Linked DNA regions of Homo sapiens. The protein of the gene in region 6 purifies or fractionates together with the protein of the main gene of each other region. This does not show direct contact. Each region holds a gene or a part of one and is shown on either strand. Other genes may lie near its edges. The genes, in order: VAMP4, STX12, PPP2R3C, STX6, SDF4, VPS50 and ANKRD22.

What was found.
Region 1: the proteins of VPS50 (region 6) and VAMP4 purify together in Homo sapiens (pull-down; one study listed by IntAct). This does not show direct contact.
Region 2: the proteins of VPS50 (region 6) and STX12 purify together in Homo sapiens (pull-down; one study listed by IntAct). This does not show direct contact.
Region 3: the proteins of VPS50 (region 6) and PPP2R3C purify together in Homo sapiens (affinity purification with mass spectrometry, with the first as the bait; one large-scale study listed by BioGRID). This does not show direct contact.
Region 4: the proteins of VPS50 (region 6) and STX6 purify together in Homo sapiens (pull-down; one study listed by IntAct). This does not show direct contact.
Region 5: the proteins of VPS50 (region 6) and SDF4 purify together in Homo sapiens (affinity purification with mass spectrometry; one large-scale study listed by BioGRID and IntAct). This does not show direct contact.
Region 7: the proteins of VPS50 (region 6) and ANKRD22 purify together in Homo sapiens (co-immunoprecipitation; one large-scale study listed by IntAct). This does not show direct contact.

Annotation. Positions count from the first base shown.
Region 1 is NC_000001.11:171,735,566-171,739,065, reverse strand, and holds part of VAMP4 (vesicle-associated membrane protein 4), read left to right. Parts: intron 1-602; 5' UTR 603-651; coding exon 652-717; intron 718-3,500. UniProt on the Homo sapiens protein: Involved in the pathway that functions to remove an inhibitor (probably synaptotagmin-4) of calcium-triggered exocytosis during the maturation of secretory granules.
Region 2 is NC_000001.11:27,811,219-27,814,718, reverse strand, and holds part of STX12 (syntaxin-12), read right to left. Parts: intron 2,557-3,500; coding exon 2,451-2,556; intron 1-2,450. UniProt on the Homo sapiens protein: SNARE promoting fusion of transport vesicles with target membranes. Together with SNARE STX6, promotes movement of vesicles from endosomes to the cell membrane, and may therefore function in the endocytic recycling pathway.
Region 3 is NC_000014.9:35,094,491-35,097,990, forward strand, and holds part of PPP2R3C (serine/threonine-protein phosphatase 2A regulatory subunit B'' subunit gamma), read right to left. Parts: intron 2,275-3,500; coding exon 2,219-2,274; intron 2,144-2,218; coding exon 2,068-2,143; intron 695-2,067; coding exon 558-694; intron 1-557. UniProt on the Homo sapiens protein: May regulate MCM3AP phosphorylation through phosphatase recruitment. May act as a negative regulator of ABCB1 expression and function through the dephosphorylation of ABCB1 by TFPI2/PPP2R3C complex.
Region 4 is NC_000001.11:180,998,871-181,002,370, forward strand, and holds part of STX6 (syntaxin-6), read right to left. Parts: intron 1-3,500. UniProt on the Homo sapiens protein: SNARE promoting movement of transport vesicles to target membranes. Targets endosomes to the trans-Golgi network, and may therefore function in retrograde trafficking.
Region 5 is NC_000001.11:1,216,431-1,219,216, forward strand, and holds the end of SDF4 (45 kDa calcium-binding protein isoform 2 precursor), read right to left. Parts: exon of another isoform or gene 2,504-2,786; intron 2,498-2,503; coding exon 2,339-2,497; intron 2,204-2,338; coding exon 2,028-2,203; intron 1,375-2,027; coding exon of another isoform or gene 1,259-1,374; coding exon 1,082-1,258; 3' UTR 501-1,081; downstream 1-500. UniProt on the Homo sapiens protein: May regulate calcium-dependent activities in the endoplasmic reticulum lumen or post-ER compartment. Isoform 5 may be involved in the exocytosis of zymogens by pancreatic acini.
Region 6 is NC_000007.14:93,357,866-93,361,365, reverse strand, and holds the end of VPS50 (syndetin), read right to left. Parts: intron 3,050-3,500; coding exon 2,930-3,049; 3' UTR 243-2,929; downstream 1-242.
Region 7 is NC_000010.11:88,845,345-88,848,844, reverse strand, and holds part of ANKRD22 (ankyrin repeat domain-containing protein 22), read left to right. Parts: intron 1-3,500.

The DNA.
Region 1 (3,500 bases), on a different chromosome or scaffold from region 6:
AAGGATATGTCAGGAAATGGGGATTAAGACCAAATGAGTATATTTTGTAAATCACGATATCACACCAGTACTTACCAAACTTACCCCTTTTCATGGAGTACCAATGGGACATTATAGTTTGCAGAATATTTTTGCATGTATTATCCAATTTGACCGTCCCAACTCTGCAGAAGCCTGAAAATCAGTATTTTACACCTGAGGAAACTGAATCATTGCTTAAGCAACCAACTAAAAGTGAGAGAAATAGGCATGTTCTCCTGTCTTCTGACTCCAACTTTAAATTGTAAAGCATTTAATGTCTCAGTGAGACGTCCTCCCTCTACTCTCTGCTCTTTCATTTTATAAAAATCTTAAATCACTCATATCCTACACATGTTCTCTTAGGGCAATTACATCCATTTTCTCATAATTTTAACTATTTCTTAGGTGTTGAGGTCTAGCATGGAGGCCCCAGTCACTGGAGTGGAACAAGTGAGAGGGCAGGAATTGAAGTCAGAAAAATGAGGGAGTCCCTGTCATACAGGGTTTCATGTACACTGTTTTAAGTACATTAGCTTATGCCCCAAAGTCTCAAATCTGATGAAATTTATTTTCTCTTTAAGGTGGTGACTATCCTGTTGAGAAGCAAAAGATACTTTGCAAGTAAAAAATATGCCTCCCAAGTTTAAGCGCCACCTCAATGATGATGATGTCACAGGTTCTGTGAAAAGTGAAAGGGTAAGTTCGGAATCTTAAGCTTTAAAAACAAAAGATTCAAAATATGTTTTCATTCCCTTTGTGAATAATAGAAGAAAAACCATCCGGGCGTGGTTGCTCATGCCTGCAATCGCCGCACTTGGGACGCTGAAGCAGAATAGCTTGAGCCCAGAAGTTCAAGACTGTCTTGGACAACCCAGGGAGACCCTGTCTCTATAAATAATTTTTAAAAAATTAATGGGGCATGGTAGCACATGCCTATGGTTCCAGCTATTCAAGAGGCTAAGGCAGGAGGATCACCTGAGCCTGGGAGATGAAGGCTGTGGTGAACTGTGATCTGCACTCCAGCCTGAGCAACAGAGCAAGACCCTGTCTCAAAAATTAATTAACTAATAATAATAACAACAGAAAAATCAAAAGCTTATGACTATATTCTAATCCTAATTGTTTTCTTCATAGCAAATGTATTTAAAAACATGTTACTTAGATTGGTGACAACTGAATTCTACTTCCATTATTGATCAAATCATTATTCTCATAGCTTCTTTCTAGTTTTTGAAAGGGAGTTTTATACAAATACACAATATCTTATTCAGAACTTTGAATGTATTTGGAATTTTTCAGATTTTAGAAAGTTAAGAACATATTATGTAACAGCATTTTTGGGGCCTGGACCAGTGCCTCCAAAAATATTAATATTTCTCAGTGAAGTCTATATTTAGTTATATCTAACTAACTATGTAAATAAAGTGTGTAAATAAACTAGCTAACATCAGTTCAGGTCAAATTTTCCTCCAAAACTTTTTGATTTTCAGAAGCTTTTAGATTTTGGAATTGCAAATAAAGGTCCCCAGACCTGTAATTATCTTATGTTCCAGAGTATCTTTTATATAATGCTTCAATTTCTAGTTTATTCCAGAACATTCTATGCAAATATATATAAATCTAGAAATTATGCCGCATTTAAAAGACAACATTTTATATGAATGTTGTAGGCAGATTACTTTTAGAATAAGTACTCAATACATATTTATTGGGGGAAATAATTCACGTTCTTATTTTTTTAATGCACCATTCTGAAGCCCTCCTTCCTTTCCTTCTTGTCTTGATTCATTCAACAAATATGTATTGACCACCTCCTATGTGCTAGGCACTGGGCTAAAAATTGGAAGACATAGTCTGTGCCCTTGCAAAGCTTTTAGTCTGCTTTGTTTTACATGCTCTTTTTGGACAACCTCAGAACTTCATATTATCCACTCTGTCCACCATCTTATGACTTTTAGTCATAAGTTTCTTTTAGTACAACACAGGAAACATTTTCTTCCCCTTATTCTAACCCTTTGTACAGCTTTTGCGGTTTTGTGTGTTTCTGATGGTTTGTTTTTATTTTTTGAGACCAGGGTCTCGCTCTGTCATTGAGGCTGAAGTGCAGTGGTGCAATCACAGCTCACTGCAGCCTCCACCTTTTGGGCCCAAGCTATCCTCCCACCCCAGCCTCCTGAGTAGCAAAGACTACAGGTGCATGATATCATGCCCAGCTAGTTTTTGTTTTTCTCGTAAAGATGGGGTTTTGCCGTGTTGCCCAGGCTGGTCTCAAATTCCTGAGCTCAAGTAATCCACCTGCCTTGGCCTCCCAAAGTGCTGGGATTACAGACATTTGACACTGCACTCGGCCTGTTTTGTTTTGTTTTGTTTTGTTTTGTTTTGTTTTGTTTTGTTTTTTAATGGGGAAATAGAATCCACCAATAGATTAATTGCTAGCAAGCTTTTACTAATAAACTTTAAGGAGTCACCAATGATTTCCATGTTGCCAAATCCAGTTACTCCTTCTTTGCCATAATTTCAACTGCTTACTAGCATTTGGTGCAGTTTCAACCATTTTGGTCACCTATCTTTTCCTCCATGCCATGGTGAAACTCTTAGTGTCTGCTTGAGCTAGTTCCCCATGCAAGGAATTGAGAAATGCCTTGAAATATACCAAGTCTGGGTGAACCCGGAAGGCTCTGGCCGAGAGAAGGCAGAGGATGATCAGGGATTGAGAAATCACTCAGGGATAATCCAGGGTCTCTTTCTTTAATGTAATATCTTTCAAGATAAACCTCCAAGAAAAAGTGATTCAGAAAATTTGATATACCTGTGCTGGAATTCCATACACTGAAGATTTACTATCAAAAGCATGTCTTGGCCAGGCGTGGTGGCTCGCGCCTGTAATCCCAGCACTTTGGGAGGCCGAGGCGGGCAGATCACTTGAGGTCAGGAATTCAAGACCAGTCTGGCCAACATAGTGAAACCCCATCTCTAGCAGAAGTACAAAAATTAGCCAGGTGCGGTGGTGCACACCTGTAATCCCAGCTACCTGGGAGGCTGAGGCAGGAGAATTGCTTGAATCTGGGAGGCAGAGGTTGCAGTGAGCCGAGATTGTGCCATTGCACTCCAGCTTGGGTGACAGAGTGAAATTCCATCTCAGAAAGAAAAAAAAAGCATGTCTTTACAAAGCAGAAGGTTTGGCGAAATACTAAACCCATTCAGAGAATAAATGTCAATTTGTTAAAGTAAATGATACCAATTGTGAACCTATAAAGGAACCCAGTGTAAAACAACACAGACTTGATATGCATCCAGTAAAAGCTGACTGAAAGCTCCTGATGAATATTCAGTGATCAGCGTGCACAAAGCATGCTGAAATATTTTTTAAATCATCGGTTAGAAGAATCTGAGCCTCTTTCCTATTGCCCCAAGGAAATCTTTAGTCACTTACCCAGAGATGCTTGCAAAGCATTAATATCCTGGAAGATGATCAATAA
Region 2 (3,500 bases), on a different chromosome or scaffold from region 6:
ACCACCACACCCGGCTAATTTTTTGTGTTTTTAGTAGACACGGGGTTTTACCATGTTGGTCAGGCTGGTCTTGAACTCCAGACCTCAGGTGAGCCACTCGCCTCAGCCTCCCAAAGTGCTGGGATTACAGGCATGAGCCACCGCGCCCGGCTAGTAATTTTTCTTTGAAGGAAGGATTATTATTATTATTTGAGACAGAGTCTTGCTCTGTTGCCCAGGCTGGATTGCAGTGGCACGATCATGGCTCACTGCAGCCTTGATCTCCTGGGCTCAAGTGATCTTCTGCCTCAGGCTCCTGAGTAGCTGGGACCACAGGTACATGTTACAGCACCCGGTTAATTTTTTATTTTTTGTAGAGGTAAGGTCTTGCTACACTGCCCAGGCTGTCTTGAATTCCTGGGCTCAAGCAATCATCCTGCCTCAGCCTCCAACTTGCCGGGATTACAGGCATGAGCCATTGCACTTAGCCATATTTCTAATGTTAGACAATTAATTCAATTAGTAGTAGCAGTAGGTGAAAAAGAGTAAAGATATGACATTTTTGAAGGCAATAAAATAATCATAACTTAAGGATAAACTATCCCATCTAAAAACAGACAAGACCAGCCTGGCCAAAATGGCAAAACCTCGTCTCTACTAAAAATACAAAAATTAGCCAGGAGTGGTGGCGGGCACCTATAATCTTTGCTACTCAGGAGGCTGAGGCAGGAGAATCGCTTGAACCCAGGAAGTGGAGGTTGCAGTGAGCCAAGAACGCGCCACTGCACTCCTGCCTGGGTGACAGAGTAAGACTCTGACTCAAAAAATAAATAATAAATAGATAAAAACAGACATTGATGGCCTTTAGGGCAGTGGGTCTCAACCCTGGCTGCATATTATAATCACCTGGGGGAACTTTTTAAAAAAATACCCATGCCCAGGGCCTCACGCCCAGAAATTATGATTTATTAGTTTGAACCATATAAAATAATGGATATTTGCCCATTTTTAACATATAATAAACAGGAATTTCACATTATCCCATCAGGTAATTAGTGGTGGATGAGAGCTGGGGCATTAAAAAAAAATCTTCTCCAGGTGATCCTCATGTGCACTCACAGTTCAGAACCACTGCTACAGATGGAGGCCAAGGAAGAGCTCAAAATTTCCCTCTCTCCTTTTCTCCTCCCCTGATCCCAGCAATGGCAGCCTTCTACCTTCGGAGAAAACTAAACTGGAGAAAACTCAGGTTTAAGGATATTTTAGCTGGGCACAGTGGTTCATGCCAGTAATCCCAGCACTTTGGGAGGCTGAAGCAGGCAGATCACTTGAGGTCAGAAGTTCAAGACCAGCCTGGCCAAAATGGCAAAACCCTGTCTCTACTAAAAATACAAAAATTAGCCGAGTGTGGTGGTGCGTACTGGTAGTCTCGGCTATTCAGGAGGCTGAGGCAGGAGAATCACTTGAACCCAGGAGAGGGAGGCTGCAGTAAGCTGAGATAGTGTCATTGCACTCCTGCCTGGGCGACAGAGCAAGACTTAGTCTCGGAAAAAAAAAAAAAAGGATATTTTATTAGTCACTGTGCAAAATTAAAGTTGAAAGCTCAGTTAGGTAAGAAAGGCCTACAGACTTCTCCCTCAACCTCCACCTCAAAAACTGTTCCTATTTCTCTGACTCACTGAAGGGATAAGATGTACAACTTGGGATTAGACTTTAGGATATACAAAAATGGAGCAAGACTTTTGGCCTGCCTTTATTCTGGGCTCTTCAGACTAAGCAAAGGGGCTCTCCATGGAGTCCTGCCTAACCCGGAGGTTGGCATTGAGATTTGAGGTCAAAGTTCTAATGAGCAATAAAATATCTGTCTGCCTTGTTCTGTTCTCCATGTACATTTCTCCAGGAGAAATAAGATGTGGTGATCCGTATAAGATGTGGTGATTGAGGAAAGGATTTGAGTACTCCTGGGCACCAAGGCCAATGCCATTATAACAGTAGTTCATGCCAGGAGCGGTGACTCACGCCTGTAATCCCAGCACTTTGGGAGGCCGATGAGGGTGGATCACCTGAGGTCGTGAGTTCAAGACCAGCCTGACCAACATGGAGAAACCCCGTCTCTACTAAAAATACAAAATTAGCTGGGCGTGGTGGCACATGCCTGTAATCCCAGCTACTCGAGAGTCTGAGGCAGGAGAATCGCTCGAACCCAGGAGGCAGAGGTTGCAGTGAGCCAAGATCACACCACTGCACTCCAGCCTGGGCAACAAGAGCGAAATTCCATCCAAGATAAAAAAAAAAACAAAAAAAACCGGTAGTTCAAACCCACCATGATTACACTGAGACAGAAAAAATACAAATCACACAATGACACATTTTATGCCTTTTCATAATCACTAAGAGAATTAAAGTGAACTAAGGAGTTCAGATACCTGCAGACACACTGAGTCAAACAAAAAACATGACGTGGCTCTCACCTCCAGCTGCCGAATTGCCGTTTCTCTTTCTTTAATAAGTTCCAAATCCTGCTCAGTGATGGCCACCTCATCCTCCTGGCTCTGCATCTGGTTCCACTCCTCATGGCTGCAGGGAAACAGGCACACTAGGTGATTTCTCCTCTCAAAGGCATAACAAGACATATCTCCAACATCTCTACTGCCAGCAGAACCTATGCAAAGACATTACCAGGGCTCCAGTCCTCTGCTATCAATAAAGTCTTGGAGGGCCACATTCTTCATATCCAGAAGCAAAGAGCTGATGATATCAGGAAAACAAAGACTCAGCTTCCATGGGCAAAGCTGACATGTGGCAGAATTATGACGGATGGGACTCCTGGCTGTTTCCATTTAGGGGTATACTCTGTAATCTCACTGGGGCTTGCCAGACAAGGAAAGTAGCCAGAGATTTGAACTCATTGAATTATGTTGCACCATCATCTTCCAGGGCACTCTCAAAGTGCAAGCTGCATTAGTACCTTCAGTACTAAGTGGGTGGAGAAGAGCAAGCTAAGTGACCTATCAGTGCTTTGCCAGTTAGTTCAACAGAATCACATCTCCTAGTTTTCCAAAATTTCCTTGGGGTTATGCTTTGGGTTAAATACCTCTTAACAGGCCAGGCGCGGTGGCTCATGCCTGTAATCCTAGCACTTTGGGAGGCCGAGGCAGGAGGACTGCTTGAGGCCAGGAGTTCAAGACCAACCTGGCTAACATAGCAAAACCCTCATCTCTATTAAAAAACAATCCATAAAAAACCCTCTTAACAGAAAGCTAGTGAAATGTTATAACACTTTTTAAAAAATTCTTTTTAGAAATGGGGGTCTTGCTTTGTTGCCCAGGCTGGTCTCAAACTCCTGGCTTTAAGCTATCCTCCTGCCTCAACCTGCCAAAGTGCTGTGATTACAGGCTTGAGCCACCATGCCTGGCTTTTTTTTTTTTTTTTGAGACGGAGTTTCGCTCTTTCATCCAGGCCGGAGTGAAGTGGCGCTTACTTCACTCCGCCCCCCGGGTTCAAGAGATTCTCCTGCCTCA
Region 3 (3,500 bases), on a different chromosome or scaffold from region 6:
AAAAAACTAGAATGCACTACTGTACAGTAGGTGCACTGACAATGAAATGAACAATAAGCTTTTCTATTTGCCCTGAGGCCATAATGCAGATGTTTTAATTTACGTTAAGACCAAAGACTCTGAATCTCAAGTAATTTGATCAGTTTACACATTTTAAAGACACTGTTACACAGTGATATCAATAATGCTGGGCCGAGTGTGGTGGCTCACGCCTCGTAATCCCAGCACTTTGGGAGGCAGATCACCTGAGGTCAGGAGTTCAAGACCAGCCTGGCCAACCTGGTGAAACCCCATCTCTCCTAAAAGTACAAAAATTAGCTGGATGCAGTGGCATGCACCCATAATCCCAGCTACTCCGGAGGCTGAGGCAGGAGAATCACTTGAACCTAGGAAGTGGAGGTTGCATTGAGCGGAGATCACACCACTGCACTCTAGCCTAGGCGACAGAGCAAGACTCTGTCTCAAAAAAAAAAGGGCTGTATTACATCAAGAAAAGGGTTTGTGGAAACTCTGGGAGCCTAAACTTTTAAAACTTAGCAGCAGATTTAAACTACTACCATTTCTCCATCATAAGTGAGACACTCCTGGAAAACACGGTCTAAGAAGACATTGGTCATGGTAGCTGTTCCATAGCGTGAGAGTTCTTCTTTACTGAGCATGCCATTGTGATCTTTATCAAGATTCAAGTACTGGCCTTGGGAAGAAAAATAATAAAGACACTTATGACCACAATAAAATTTTAATCAGAAGAATAGACTAACAAAAAGTTTTTTCTTGGTTAATATTTTGATTTTCAAACTATTCATGTTATGATTAGGGTAGTGGCCTATGTGTAATACTATCAGCTACCTTTGCAATCTTGATCAGAAAAACCCTTGGGCTAGAAACAGCCAAAAAAACCCATCATGAAGGCCATAGTCTCTGGGCTGTTTCACTTACATCATTATTTGTTTTCAGTTTGCAGTCTTTTTAAACATTCCTAGGTTTCTAAATTAAATGGAGGTAGAGGCCAACAAAAAGCACTGAAATGCTAGCACTTGAAAGTAGAGATAAGAATGCCAAAAGGAGGTCGGGCGTGGTGGCTCACGCCGGTAATCCCAGCACTTTGGGAGGCTGAGGAGGGCAGATCAGAGGTCAGGAGTTCCAGACCAGCCTGGCCAACATAGTGAAACACCGTCTCTACTAAAAAAAAAAACAAAAAAAAAAAACATTAGCCGGGTGTGGTGGCGAGCGCCTGTAATCCCAGGTACTTGGGAGGCTGAGGCAAGGAGAATCACTTGAACCTGGGAGGTGGAGGTTGCAGTGAGCCGAGATCATGCCACTGGACTCCAGCCCAGGTAACAGTGCAAGACTCTATCTCCAAAAAAAAAAAAAAAAAAAAAAGCCAAAGGAGTCAAAAGACCACCCAACAAGATAATGTAGATTAGCTCCATCAGTAGACCCTGGGAATAGCATTTTATCAACAAAGCATGACAATAGCTAATGTTCATAATGATGCTCCTGAGTCAACAAGGATCAAATTACATTCTGTTCTATTGAAAAGGAAGTGTATAACTTAAAAAGGGTTCTGCTGGGTGCAGTGCCTCATGCCTATAATCCCAACACTTTGGGAGGTCAGGGCAGGTGGACTGCTTGAGCCCAGGAGTTTGAAACCAGCCTGGGCAACACAGTGAGATCCCATCTCTAAAAAAACATAAAATAAATTAGCCAGGCATGGCGCCTGTAGACCCAGTACTGGGGGTGGTGGGGTGGGTGGGGTAGGGGCACTGAGGTGAGAGGATTGAGCCTAGGACTTCAAGGCTGCACTGAGCCGTGATCATGTCACTGCACTCCAGCCAGTGTGACAGAGTGAGACCCTGTCTTCAAAAAGAAAAGGTTGGGGGGAGTCCAAAAAGTTAAAACATCGGTATTTAAACAAGTAAATTTTGGTAATGTAGAATACTAAAGCTTAAGGTAATTAAATATTTTGATCTTAAGGTATATCAGTGTATGTATAAAACTGTCCTCTGAACACCAATTTCCTGAAGAATGGATAATTCAAATTTTAGCATTATGATAGGAACATACCATAAACTCTTAGGGCAGAAGGAGCAGAAAACCAATTTGTTTCTTGACTCTCCTTGGACAGTTCCTCATCCCTTAGCTAATGGAACACAAAGACATAATTAGAAGATAGCAACTGTCAAGTGATACAATTAAGTAGTTTAAAAACATTTACCTCCAATAAATCATCTAGGAAGCTGCATGCTAAAATATCTTGAATTTTTATCTTTCCTTTAAGAACATAAAGAAACACAATTAATTTCATTTTAAGAAAAGAGCAACTCAATTAATTAAAAAAAAATTTTTTTAACAAGAGCAATCACACAATTGATATTTTAAAGCTTCTAGCTCTTATGCTCCAAAGTCCTTATTACATATTGCTACAAAAAGGGAAATCTCGGCTGGGCGCGGTGGCTCACCGCGTAATTCCAGCACTTTGGGAAGCTGAGGCAGGTGGATCACCTGAGGTCAGGAGTTCCAGACCAGCCTGGCCAACATGGTGAAACCCCATCTCTACTAAAAACACAAAAAATTAGCTGGGTGTGGTGGAGGGCGCCTGTAATCCCAGCTACTCTGGAGGCTGAGGCAGGAGAATCGCTTGAACCTGGGAGGCAGAGGTTGCAGTGAGCTGAGATCAAGCCATTGTACTACAGCCTAGGGAACAAGAGCAAAACTCCATCCCCACCCTGCAAAAAAAAAAGAGAAACCTACAGGCAACATTTAATAACATCTCTACTTGTATACCTCAACTATATAAATCTAAGTGGTAAATTCTAAAATTATACTGATGTCAGATTTTCAAAAAAGTTGTGATTATAGATATAGTACTGCTGGTACACGAACAGGGACACTGTCTCCATTTATTTTTGGCAGGTTCTGGACTAGAAAGCAATACGCAGGTAAACAGGTGTGGTTTAAGAGCAGAGTTTGTTTTGTCTTGTTCTTGTTCTTTTTTTTTTTTTTTTTGAGACAGAGTTTCGCTCTTGTTGCCCAGGCTGGAGTGCAATGGTGTGATTTCAGCTCACTGCAATCTCTGCCTCCTGGGTTCAAGCGATTCTCCTGCCTCAGCCTCCTAAGTAGCTGGGAATACAGGCACCCACCACCACATCCAGCTAATTTTTTCTATTTTTAGTAGAGATGGGGTTTCACTATGTTGGCCAGGCTGGTCTTGAACACCTGACCTCAGATGATTCACCCATCTTAGCCTCCCAACGTGCTGGGATTACAGGTGTGAGCCACTGCGCCTGGCTGCTGCTGCTTTTTTGTACAGAAGAGGTCTGTCTTGCCAGGGCTGGTCTTGAACTCCTAGGCACCAGTGATTTCTCACCTCAGCCTCCCAAAGTGCTGGGATTACAGGTGTGAGCCACCACACCTAGCCCAGATTGGAGTTTGAATGCCACTTTTAAATATGTAACCTAGCAAAGTCTCAGTTGCCTTACACATAAAATGTGGACAAT
Region 4 (3,500 bases), on a different chromosome or scaffold from region 6:
GTCAAGCAACAAGTCCCAATAAAATATGGTTCATCTGCCAAAGGAACAACAAATGTCCTGGTTATTTATGCTTCTGTTCCCATTTCACACTGTCTTCCAAGCTGAATGAATGAGACATCATAAACCCCAGTGCTTCCCACTCATAATTCTTACATTTCAAGGTCATCTGTGCTCACACTGGATACTTCACCCTTTTTGATTAACCAAAGCCATTTCCATCTTGACTTACAATTGACTGTAAACAATTCTTACATTGGAGCAGGTTCGGTTTTTTCATGGAGAGGGTAATAGTTCTAACTTTTAAAGTCAGAGAATGTTAGTGAGGATTATTTCATAGATAAAACTGAGATCCAGGGAGGTTGAATGACTTACCATGGTTAAGATTTATTAAGGTCACAGCTTAGCCTAGAACTCAGGTTCCCTTACCCCTTATATTCACCATTATTCTGCCATATACTGCAAAACCTCTTGATCCTAAAGTAAAACCAAAGTCACTTCTAGGATATATTTCTAAAACACAAAAATTTCACATGTGGAATCTTTGATGTATAGGTGACTCCACAAGAGTAAAAATGATTACCTCAAAAATATGAAAGCTATTTACACAAAAATGTGAGTATTTTGGTTCTTCACTAAAAACTGCCAGCAAAACTGGATTTGTACAGACTTAAAAGATGCTTGGAAAAACATACACAAAACTCTAAACAAGGAAAGCTTACTAAAGGCATAACCAATGGACATTAATCAAGAAGAAACAGGCGATTTACTTCTTCAGGTTGAAGCAAATAAAGAAAAAAAAAACCACAAAATGCATAGAGTATCACTGACTCCCCTGCCTACAAAAGAGAAAGCATAAGTAGAATACACTGTTTGAAAGATAAAGTCAATCAAAATTTTGGAGCAATATTAAATGAAAGCCCACTAGTAATAGTAACAGAAGAACTAACATAAATTTGTACAAATTCCTAATTTGAACTTCATTTCATCTCATTTTCCAAATCTGCTAACCCTCTGCTCCCTCTCTATCGAGCTCTTCCACCCAGAACCCAGAAATCTCTACATACAAACACTGTTTAGCTAAATGTGGTAATGTGGAATTATACAAGGTATATTTTATTTTTAATCGAGTTAGCACCATTGCTATTTCCTCCTCTTCTATAGGACTTTCAACTAGAATTTATTACAATCAGATCAGCAAAAGCTCAGTTAGGTACTGTTAGCCTACCACTGGTAAATACTAACAGCTTCCCCCAAAGGGGTCATAAATTTAAACAAGAATGATTTAAAACCCTAAAATATTCAGGTGGATCACATAGTTGAGTATGGTTTAGATCTCAACTCTAAAAGGACAGTAAGATTTTGAAGTACTGACTTGATTTGGAATACCTCTCATTACTCTGTTCTCACATTGCTATAAAGAACTGCCCGAGACTGGGTAATTTATAAGAGAAAGAGGTTTAATTGACTCACAGTTCAGCATGGCTGGGGAAGCCTCAGGAAACTTACAATCATGGCAGAAGGAGAAGCAAGGCAACTTCTTCACAAGGCAGCAGGGAAGAGTGACAGAGCAAAGTGGGAAGAGCCCCTTATAAAACCATCAGCTATCATGAGACTCACTCACTATCATGAGAACAGCATGTGGGAAACTGCCCCCATGATTCAATTACCTCCACCTGGTCTCTCCTTTGACACATGGGGATTATGGGGATTACAATTCAAGATGAGATTTTGGGTGGGGAAACAGCTAAATCATATCAACCTCTTTCTAAGAATGTACTTTAAAAAGCTTTTCAGATATTAGAAAATGAACTTTGGATTCTTCTTTCCATTATACCAATGAACTTAATTTTTAATATACGAACCTCTAAATTTCAATTTGCAAACTTCCTAAGTCTACCTTGCAGAAATAAATATAATGATTAAGGTTAAGGACATATGCTTCACTGCAAGGCCCCACTTAAATATTAACGTCTATAGGAGTATCCTTCAAAAAACCTACTACTACAAAAAAAAAAAAAAAAAAGCTTATACAAAATAATTGGGGATTTACTTATCTTACAAAAAATATGTCACCTAACAACAAGGCTTCCTCATCAGAACAGTATTTTGAACTGGCTAGAAATTAAGAATGTCCAATCCAAACACTCACTGTGGATGGGGCATCTGAGGTCCAGAAAGGTTTCTCCCTCATTAAAATGTGGGTTTATCTATAAACAATTTACGTATATGTATATAGAAAGGCAACTAATGAATAAAACAAGTAACAAGAATATATAAAGTTCAGTGATAATCTACCATTTGAAATAATTTCAAAAGGAAATCACATGATATAAAGACTTTGGCAAACACAAACTAAGGTTCCTGCCTAAGATGACTCTTAAAAAGCCGTATGTTAGCACTGGTATGATCCCAAGTCTTTTTATTCAAGGAAGCTGCTTTCTAGTACATATGTTAAAGACAGCTGGTTCTCTTACATCTAGTTATGCTAATCAAATGGCTTAGCCATATAGTTTCAAAATATGAAACATTTTAATGACACAAGATTGTACTTAATATTTTTTCTCAGATTCTTTAATAATGGGTATTATTCTAAATAACTTAGAACTAAAGATTTGTTCACTTGGATCAATTTTTTACACTCTGATAGATGCTTGTTTGCTCTGGATAACTCTGGAACGGCTGTCAAGTAGTTACATATGGAAATGTCAGTATCTTGGGTTGCAAGAGTTCCAGAAGCAATTCAGATGGCGGAAGAGGCCGCTATCCAAACCCACTAAGAGTCACTCTTCAACAATGCGAAGTGATTACCAATCAATCAAAAAACCAAATGGTTTCTACAATAGCAATTGTTTTGTTCGTCAAGAAATAGAGTACACTAAGAAATAAAAAGTGAGAAAGATAACTAGCTTGAAGAAACTAGAGGTATGGACAAGGGTCTAATCATTCAGGATGACACCATTTGAATGTACCCTGCCCAAAGCCAGCAGATTACTGTCTCATTTTTGCTCTCGGAAATAAGCCTGACAGGCTGGGCATGGTGGCTCACGCCAGTAATCCCAGTACTTTGAGAGGCTGAGGCAGGCAAACTACTTGAGTTCAGGAGTTCAAGACCAGCCTGAGCAACATGGTGAACCCTGTCTCTACAAAAAATTAGCCTGGTGTGGTGGTGCACGCCTGTAGTCCCAGCTATTTGGGAGGCAGAGGTTGTAGTCAGCCAAGATCATGCCACTACATTTCAGCCTGGTCAACACAGTGAGACCTTGTGTCAAAAAAAGAAAGATTAAAAACAGATTTCTTTTTCTTCAATCACGGAAATTTTTTTTTTTTTTTAAGGTACAGTGACGTGATCATAGCTCTCAGCCTCAACCTGATCCTCCCACCTCAGCCTCCCATCTTGGTCTTCCATGTAGTTGAGACAACAGGTGTGCACCACCATGCCCAGCTAATTTTTATATTTTTTTTTTGTAGAGACAGGGTTTCATCATGTTGCCCGGACTGGT
Region 5 (2,786 bases), on a different chromosome or scaffold from region 6:
CGGTCACATGGGCACCACAGGGCAGACTGAAGAGGACACACTCCCGGCTTCCCTGAGCTCCCACTGGGAGAGCCAGGACACAGCCTGGGCCCCCACACGCCACAGAGCAGGACCCCCACCAGCCGTCCTAACACACCCCATTCTCTGCCCCATCTGGGGCTAGGCCTGCCCCACTGCACCCAAAGACCTTGCCATCCTCCACCCAAAACCCCCAGGCGGCTCTGTCTCCTGCCTTAAATGTCCAAACCCCAAACTCAGTGGGCACGTCTGCTGCCCCCTGACCCCTACTCACAAACGCAGCGCTGCCCTCCGTCCTCCCAGAGCCCCTGCCCGTTGCCACCTGCCAGGAGAATCACCTCGAACCGGCCATGACCTCCAACCCTCCACGTGACCCAGCACCAGCCTCCAGCGCTCCAGTGGAAACTGTAACCACAAACCTAGCACGCTGCTGTTGTGTTTTGTTTCACGCCCAAAGAATGAAGCTGACCAAAAAAGGCAACTATATTTAAAGTAAATGTATGTGATTCTTGTCACAACAAATATTTGCATTTTCTCAGCGGCAGCTGCGGGACCTGGGTGGCTCCGACACGCCAGGCCCGGGAAGGACCCGGCACCCTCCCCTGAACTTCCTGGCTACTCATTTCCAGCGAAGTTTAATCTATTTTTAATAATCGTTCAGTTTTCAAGGAAATGGAGGAGCTGTTTTTTCCCACGGAGCGGCGGCCCTGGGAGGGGCCGGGCCCAGAGGTTCCGGCCGCGATGCCGTCAGCGCCTTCGGCAGAGTGACTGAAGCGAGATTTCGTTCTCAGAAGTGAGATGCCACGATTTCGAGGGACCAGGGAGGAGGCGGCGCCGCGGGGCCACAGCCCAGCCCCGCGCCCCGACCGCGTCACAGCCAAAGCCCCGCCGGGGTGCGCGCTGCAGAGGGGACACGCCGCTCATCAACTGGGGCAGCCGCGGTCGGTCGGCCGGTGGCGGGCGGCAGGGAAGAGGTGGGGTCCGGGACAGCCACGGAGCCCGGAGTCACCCGCGAGGCCGCCCCGGTGGTGCGTGGGGGGCGGCGCGGGGCGCGGCCGGGCGCTCAAAACTCCTCGTGCACGCTGCGCGCGTAGTCCACCAGCTTGCTGCCCGTGAAGAACTCGCTGTACTTGAGCACCTCCTCGGGCTCCAGGTGGTGGTTCTGGTTCTCGTCGGCGACGGCGATCATCTGCTTGGCCTCGTTCAGCGCGTTGTACTCGTTCATGGGGTCCATGTAGCTCTGCGGGCGAGCGGGGCACAGGTCAGCGTCGCCTTTCCCCCTCCGAGCTCCGCGGCCAGCCGCACGAAGTGGCTATTTAAGGTGCCTATTGGCTGCAGCGGGAGTGTGGGCACGTTCTGGAAGGTTCCCGAAGGGAGGCGGCACAAATGAAAACACAGGGCAGGGAGAAGCCGGGGGCCCCGGAAGGCCTGCCCGGGGCCAGCAGGGGTAACGGGGCACAGGGGCTACACAGGCCTGGACCCCAGTTCTGAAGGATCCCTAACCTGGGCCGGGCCCACTGGCTGTCGCCAGGAATCACAGGATTCTACATAAAAACAAGATGACTCACTCAGCAGTGGGAGAAAAACAAGCCTACACATGATACCAGTGAAAACGCTTCAGAGGAAGGTGGTAAATTCCAGCCATGTGGCACAGGCCGCCCCGCCCACCTGCACCTGCTGGGCCTTGGACCTGCCTCCATGCTGGGCCCAGCATGAGCTTCCCCTTGTGGTCCCGTTAAAAAGGGGCTGTGAGAACCCTGACGCCTCCGCAAGGGGCTGAGGATGGAGCCCGGCCAGGCTCGCCTGTCTCTGATCCGTCTGAACCTAAACGCCAACAACGGCCATGCAGCCTGGTGGACACCGCTGAGCAAACGCCCCAGTGACCAGCCCAGATGGAGTCTCAGGCCAGACACCAGCACAGCTTCCTGCCTCAGGCCCAGATCCACCAGCCCCTCCCGCCACAGCACCTCGCAGGGCCGGCTCCGGGACACGGCTGCGCCAGGGCTCACCTCCAGCTCCTCGGCGGTCACGATGCCGTCGTGGTTGGAGTCAATGAGCTCCTCAAACTCCTTTTTTCTGTCTTTCACCCAGTTGTCGTCAATGTCCTGGCCCTGCTGGTTCTCCACGGTGCCCACGGGCAGGGAGATGAACTCGGGCACAGAGAGCTGCTTGTCACCGTCCTGGTCTGCGAGACGGGAATGGGTCAGCCCACACCCAGGCTGGGGCTCCCGCAGGACCTGCCCCGACCTCCCGACGATGCCCGGCCCCTGCCAGTCGGTCCTGGGTCCTGGCGTGCCGGCCAGGCTGGACCCAGCCTCACCCAGGTCCCGGACGATCTCCTTCACCATGAACCTGAGCATTCCCCGGCTGTGCTCGGGGTGGAGGAACGACAGGAACTCCTCCTCCGTCAGCAGCAGGTCTGCAGGGGGGCTGTCCGCCTGGTACCAGCGGTCCTTCAGGTTCTCCAGGACTTCCTGTGCTGAGAGGGGCGCAGCCTGTGGGTATCGAGGCCGACAGACGCCAGCACGCAAATCCAGAAAGTTCCGAGAGGTGCTGCCTGAACTCGAGGGACACAGCCACCCGCGAGACCGGGGCCCCACCCTCCAGGATTCACACGTCCCCAGAACATGGCCCAGCCCCTAAGACACAGCCTGGACCCCCGCCAAGACATAACCCAGAGCCTCCCACAGGCCTGATCCCCAAAGGCATAGCTTGGACCCCTCCACACAGCCCGGACTCCCCAAGACAGCCTGGACCCCCCCCTGCCC
Region 6 (3,500 bases):
AAGAAAAAATCTGTAGAAAGCTGCACCAGTCTTAACATTTACAAAGATTATACCAGACTATTAATAATTCTCATCATTAATCATTGTCAGAAGCTAAATATCATTTTGTTAACCACTAATCCGAATCAAAATTATTCCAAAAAGAAATATATATATAATATATATATATGTATATATATGGAAATCCCCCCCACCCTGTACTTCTATGTGCTTTGAGCACAACTTGTATTCATCAATTCATCTTCAGATCTAGTTTTTTATTACAAAAGACAACTATGCTTACAAGGTGAATTGAATTACAAGCCTTTTACTACTTTTTGGTGAGTTAAGAAAAAGCTATTTAATCTAACAAAGTTTCACTTTAGCACTCAGCTAAATAGAAATTTCGAAATTTTATTTAAAGATATGATAAAATACCATATGGCCCTGGTTTCAAGAGAAATTCATTTAATAAGTTGTGTAAATGAGTTTATTAGTTAAAGTGAACTTACAAAATCTCTGTTGGTTTTATAAACCAAAGCAAACTAGTTCATTTGAATTGCTATGTGCCCCCCTAGCATTTTTAAATGCAAGACAATGTATTTGTAGAAATGATCATTCTTTCTCAGGGAATGCTAATTTACCATGCTCCCATGGTAAATTCTACAGGAAACTTTCATGGAAAATGTCAAAGTTAAGGAAAGTTTAGACTCAAAAATAATAAATTTTTGGTAATGATAGTTTTTGGAACACGTATAATTCCATTTACATTCTCAGCTTTTCAATTGTATTTATCTGAAAATTAGTTTCATAAAATGTTACATGGTTATAACTCAATATTACTGTATAAAGTATTTGAGAAATGTCTGGTAACTCTCTTGTGATTAGGTAACTTCATGACTCAAACCTCCTGTTACTGTTTTGATGCTAGCTAGCACTTATTAAGCTACCTTTTAATGAAAAAAAAAAAAAAAAAAAACCTTTTTCAAAAAGCATTAAAAAGATCCACCATTTCATTTTGAAGATGGAGAAAGCAAAGTAAGGGTAGGTTAAAAGGTCTGTCAGATTGCATGGTCGAGTCTCTAACAAGATAAGTAATTCTTTTGTATCAATTCCTATTACCTTGGAAAACACTGGGCTCTACCAGGCAGGTGATTCCTGTTCATATTATCTAGGGCCAACTAAAGTAGAAATTAAAGGAAACCAACTATAAAATCCATGTAGAAGAGAAAAATAAGCAGCTCTTCATCAACTGCAAATTTTAAAAGATTGATTAGCTCTTTATGTGCCCAGCTAAATATGCCATTTAAACTCAAGGACCAAGCTTATCTCATGTTTGTTTTCTTCAAGTGGCTGCATATAAATAATGGCTACAGGCAGAATCTACTTCACAAGTATATAATCTAGCCACAACCAAATCATAATGGCACCAAACTCATACCTTTTTACAAGAGGAAAGTTTTAAATTGACAGTAAATGAACTCCGACATGAGAGGATGAAAAGAAAACACTCAGCATACAGACACACACAAACATATTCTGAAAGTGCTTCACATTACACTGTGCATTTACAGACATCGCAGGGACTGATGGACACAGAGTAGCAATTGTTTCCTTATCACCTCCATGCTTGATCACATGCCATTCTGTGCCATCCATTTTATCACCTTAGGTCCCAGAAGACTCATAAGACCCAAGGCCTGTTTCTCACATGATTCCTTAGGATTCTGTGAGCTGTTGATGTTACAGGTCATGCATGGCAATCATTGGACCAATGCCACACAAGCTTAGATGTCCTCCACTCTCCAGTCAGAAAGAACACACACAAAATTCCTTATCAGACAGTTGGCAAGAGTACATGGAAAATGGATTTTTATGTCACATACATTAGGAGAAGATCCCTGGCTTCAGGGCAAAGTTTAGAGGAACAGCACATACTTACTGAAGACTAAGTGGATTCCAGAGTTCATCATTGGCTAGACTGATACTATTTTACATTTGTGTTATAAAAGGTGGATATTTAAGAAGAGTGAACATATGACCGTACATTTATGAGTGACTAGCAGACAACTGTTTCCTGAGTCAGTCAACCTGGGTTTTACTGTCCTAAGACAAAATCTGAATTTAAAGAGACCAAAACTTTCAACAAAAAAACCACATATTTTTATAAAGAAAGATAAAAGAAAGTCTCATAATCATGATTCTGTATGCTACTCAGGCATTGAAAAGGTACCCTCAATGAAATTACTTTTCACCATTGGTTTCAGGATATAAAACAATTAAAATTAGAACACACTAAAAGCTGCACTATAGTTCATGACATCTGCATGCCACACAAAAAATCAAAATGTAGTCTCACATAGGCTGATCATACTAGAGTATATTTATTAAATTTCACCATTATGATCACTTTGTTATAACTAAATTAACCCTGACATAAACTTTGACATTTTAAAAACAGAGAACATACTGATTTTTCAACTATTTTACTTACATGTGTTTTTTAATTCTCATGCAGTGCTCATAATTAGGAGATACTACATATTCACCCTCACATTATGCTTATTAAGAACCAAGCTCAGAGGGTAGAAAAGTGCCAACTTCATTTTCCATAAACTTCCCATACATATATTAAGCCACTGTTCTTCTAATTATATACTTATGGTACATTCTTCTGTAAAATGTATAACTGTAGTCACATAACCATTGTTATGACAAGGCGGCAACATCATTTCAGATTACAACAAATGAGACCAAAAGTTGAAGAGACCACAGCATATAAAAGTCATGAGAACACCACACACATTTCAATATTTTCCACTTTCCAGTCAAAAAAACATGCACAAAGTTTTCTTAGCAGATAGTTGTCAGAAGTGCATAAAAAAACTGGCTTTCAGGTCATATATGTTGAGTGAGGATCAATGCCATTGAGGAAAGAGAGCTGTGTTCATTATCTTTTAGGTCTGTCTATATCATCTATAGCTGCTAGAAGTTTTTGTCTTGCTTTCTTATTGATATGGGATCCCAGGCAAACATTCACCAGATTGGTCAGCTGCTTCGTTGAATATTCCTGCTCAAAGAAGAAAGATCCAAATTTAGTACCCTAAAAGGAATGTATCTGATCAGTGCAACAAAAGAACAGGCGGATATTCAGGTGCAGTGGATAGTTACTGAGCATTATAAACCAGTGAAAAACAGTGGAAATTACAGTTGGGACATGGAAGGCAAATTGTTTACTGAGCTGTAATAGGAGAGAATAAGAATACTATAGTACACATTTGAAACAGTAAGCACTAGAATCTGTTTTAATATGGCAAAGCAATCTGACATGCGTATGCTTCTTACTGCTTTGATGATCACACACTTTACACTTGTTTCTGTAATAGTCTTTGTTATTGAGTCATCAAAATACACTGACATTTCAAATTTTTTAAATGCTACTGATGAAGTATTTTTCTGGCCCTCTACATTTTGTAAACACTTTAGTTAAAAAAAAAATCTCCAACAACAGAAGAACAACT
Region 7 (3,500 bases), on a different chromosome or scaffold from region 6:
TATTGGAAAAGCTGGTACAGTTGAGGAGGAGAAGTCAGGGAATACAGGAATAGAGATGTGACTAATTGAATGGCCATTGGACTGAAAGTCAAGCAATCCTATATTTTAGACCTGATTGTGCCAGGAACTTCAAGGGATTTGAGAGGAAGTCATTTAACCTCTCTGAGTCACAGTTTTAATATTACAAAACAAGAGAGCTGAATGAGATCTGGTTTCACATTTAACATCGTGTCATTCTGTGATATGAGAAAGGCTAGGCAGAGACAATGGGGAAAAAATTGCATTCTCACAATCTTCCCAGCTCTCTCCATCTACCTTGTTTATGTATGAACTCCTAGCAAGATTTTGGTATTCAACAACATATGCAAGAAGAGCATCAGGCGTTTTCATCCCAACTGGTTTTCTAATTCTTTCCTTGTATATTGAAAGTAATTTTACAAATTAAAATGTTGTGCTAAGTCACAAAAGTTCAGAGAGAAAATGATAACTTTCACATATGAAAAGACACCAGGATTGAAAATGTGTATACCTTTATTTATTTATTCATTCACCCATCCATTTGTTTAATCAACCATATTTATTGAGTACATACTATGTTTCAGGCATCTTCTAGTTCCTGGTGTATATATGTATATATATATGTATATATACATATATACATATATATATACACATATATACATATATATATATACACGCATATATGTTGGGCATCCCTAATCTGAAAATTTGAGTGGAAGTGCTCCAAAACTCCAAATTTTTGAGCACAAACATGAAACAAGTAGAAAATTTCCTACTTGACCTCATGTGATGGGTCACAGTCAAAATGCAGGTACACAATGCACAGTTTACTCAGAATTAACAAGAGAAAAAAGAATTTCCCAGCCCCTTTCGGCTGTGATATATCTTTTTCTTGAACACCCAGTTTTTCCCATGAAAGCAAGTCCACAAAGGGTAAAAAATGGCACCTGTGCAGGATGAATGAGCCTATAGCAGATTTGCCACTCTGCCTCCATGGGGCCAAGATTTGTGTGTATTTCTCTGTGTGTGTCTTTTTTTGTTTTTTGGGGTTTTTTTTTATTTTGTTTTTGTTTTGCTTTTTCTCTACTCTGTGATGTAAATATACTGTTGAAAATATCAAAAAGGTCTGCAGATACTTATGGGTAACAGTGATAAGAAAAAAAAAGGAAGCATTTATGTATACTTATAACACAGAAAGTCAAGCTTTTGGATAAATTGGACAGTGGTATAGGTATAAAATGTCTGATAGAAGAGTATGGTGTTGAGGCCAGGCGCAGTGGCTCATGCCTGTAATTCCAGCACTTTGGGAAGCTGAGGCAGGTGGATCACCTGAGGTTGGGAGTTTGAGACCAGCCTGGCCAACAAGGTGAAACCCTGTCTCTACTAAAAACAGAAAAATTAGCTGGGTGTGGAGGCATGTGCCTGTAATCCCAGCTACTTGGGAGGCTGAGGCAGGAAAATTGCTTGAACCTGGGAGGCAGAGGTTGTAGTGAGCTGAGATCACATCACTGCACTCCAGCCTGGGCAACAGAGTGAGTCTCCATCTCAAAAAAGTAACAATAAAAAAAGAGTATGGTGTTGAAATGACCACCATATATGACTCAAAGAAATAGAAGGATAAACTGTTTAAGTCCTATGCTGAAGTTAATGAAAAATGTAAAAAAACATTCCACAAAGCTACAAATGAAGATCCCAATTGTGTATTGAGAAAGTGGATCCATCAGTATCACAAAGAACACATGCCACTTAATGGTATGCTGATCATGAAACAGGAAAAGATCTATCACGATGAACTGAAAATTTAAAAGAACTGCGAATATGCGTAGTTCTTTGGCATAAATTTAAGAAAAAACATGGCATTAAATTTTCAAATATTTGTAGTGACGAAACATCTGCTGATCAGAAAGCAGCAGAGAAATTTATTGATGAGTTTGCCAAGATCATCACTGATAAAAATTCTCACACTAGATCAAGTCTATAGTGCTGATGAAACATCACTGTTTTGGCATTATTGCTTCAGAAAGACACTGACTTCAGCCGATGAGACAGGCCTTGTGGGCAATCAGGATACCAAGGACAGGATAATTGCGCTGGGATGTGCTAATGCAGCAGGCACACACAAATGTAAACCTGCTGTAATAGGCAAAAGCTTGAATTCTCACTATTTTCAAAGAGTAAATTTCTTACTAGTCCATTATCATGCTAACAAAAGGCATGGGTCACCAGGGACATCTTTTGTGATTGTTTTCACAACATTTTGTAGCAATGGCTCATGCTCACTGCAGGGAAGCTGGACTGGATGAAGGCTGCAAGATTTTGTTATTCCTTGACAACTTTTATGCTTATTCTTCAGCTAAAATTCTCATCAAAAGTAATACTTATTCCATGTGCTTTTCCCCAAATGTGACTTTATTAATTTAGCCATGTGAGAATGGTGTCCTTAGATCAATCAGTGTAAATATAAAACATTTTCGTAAACAGTATGTTATCAGCAGTGAACATAGGTGTGGGTGTTTCGCATAAAGGATGTTGTATATGCTGTTGCCAATGCTTGTAATGCAGTAACTAAAGACAGTTGTGCATACCTGGCATAACCTCTGTCCTGCAACTATGTTCAGTAAGTATTATAAATAAAGTGACTTTGAATGATTCTGTATGTCAAATGAGAAAAAAAAAAGATGTCTGACCATACATACGCAAAAAAAAGTACCTTCAGAGTCCACCAGTAAGTTGGAAGAAGTTGATATTGAAGAAATTTTTAACACTGATAATGAGGCTCCAGTTGTTCATTTATTAACCAATGGTGAAATAGCTGAAATGGTTCTGAATCAAGATGATTGTGATAATAGCAATAATGACGATGGTGGTTAACACTGTAAAGACTTTGTCAGGGGCCAGATCAGGCAGGTCTTGTAGGCCAAGGTGAAAAATTTAGATTTTATGCAAAACACAATGGAAAGCGGGTAAAGGATCTTAAGAGAGGAATAATATGACCATTAGGGTTTAAAAAGGCCACTCTGGTAGCATGGGAGAATAAATTTGAGAGATGCCAGAGGGAAAGCTGGATCTTGGAAGGAAGCTGTTACAGTAGTTTATGGAGTGATAATGATGGTTGCATTAGACTAATGGGTGAATTTTAGATAAATTTTTAACTAAAAGATTTCCTGGTTTGTAGGTTGGCAGTGAAGGAAAGTAAGAAATTAAAGTTGATACTCAGTATTCTGCCTTAGGCCAGCCAGTGGATGGTGGTGCTGATGAGATGGGAACACTCAGAGAGGGGCAGAAGGAAAGACACATTTCAGGGTTCTATTTGGACATGGTACTTTAGCGATATCCATGAGACATCTAGGTGGGGATGGAAGATGAATACAGGAAATGTACCTTTAAGGAGAGGCTCGGGCAAGAGATAATAATTTAGGAGTTGTCTGCATATACATGGTATTTAACGCCAAGAGAAGGGATGAGTTTAGACATGGAAA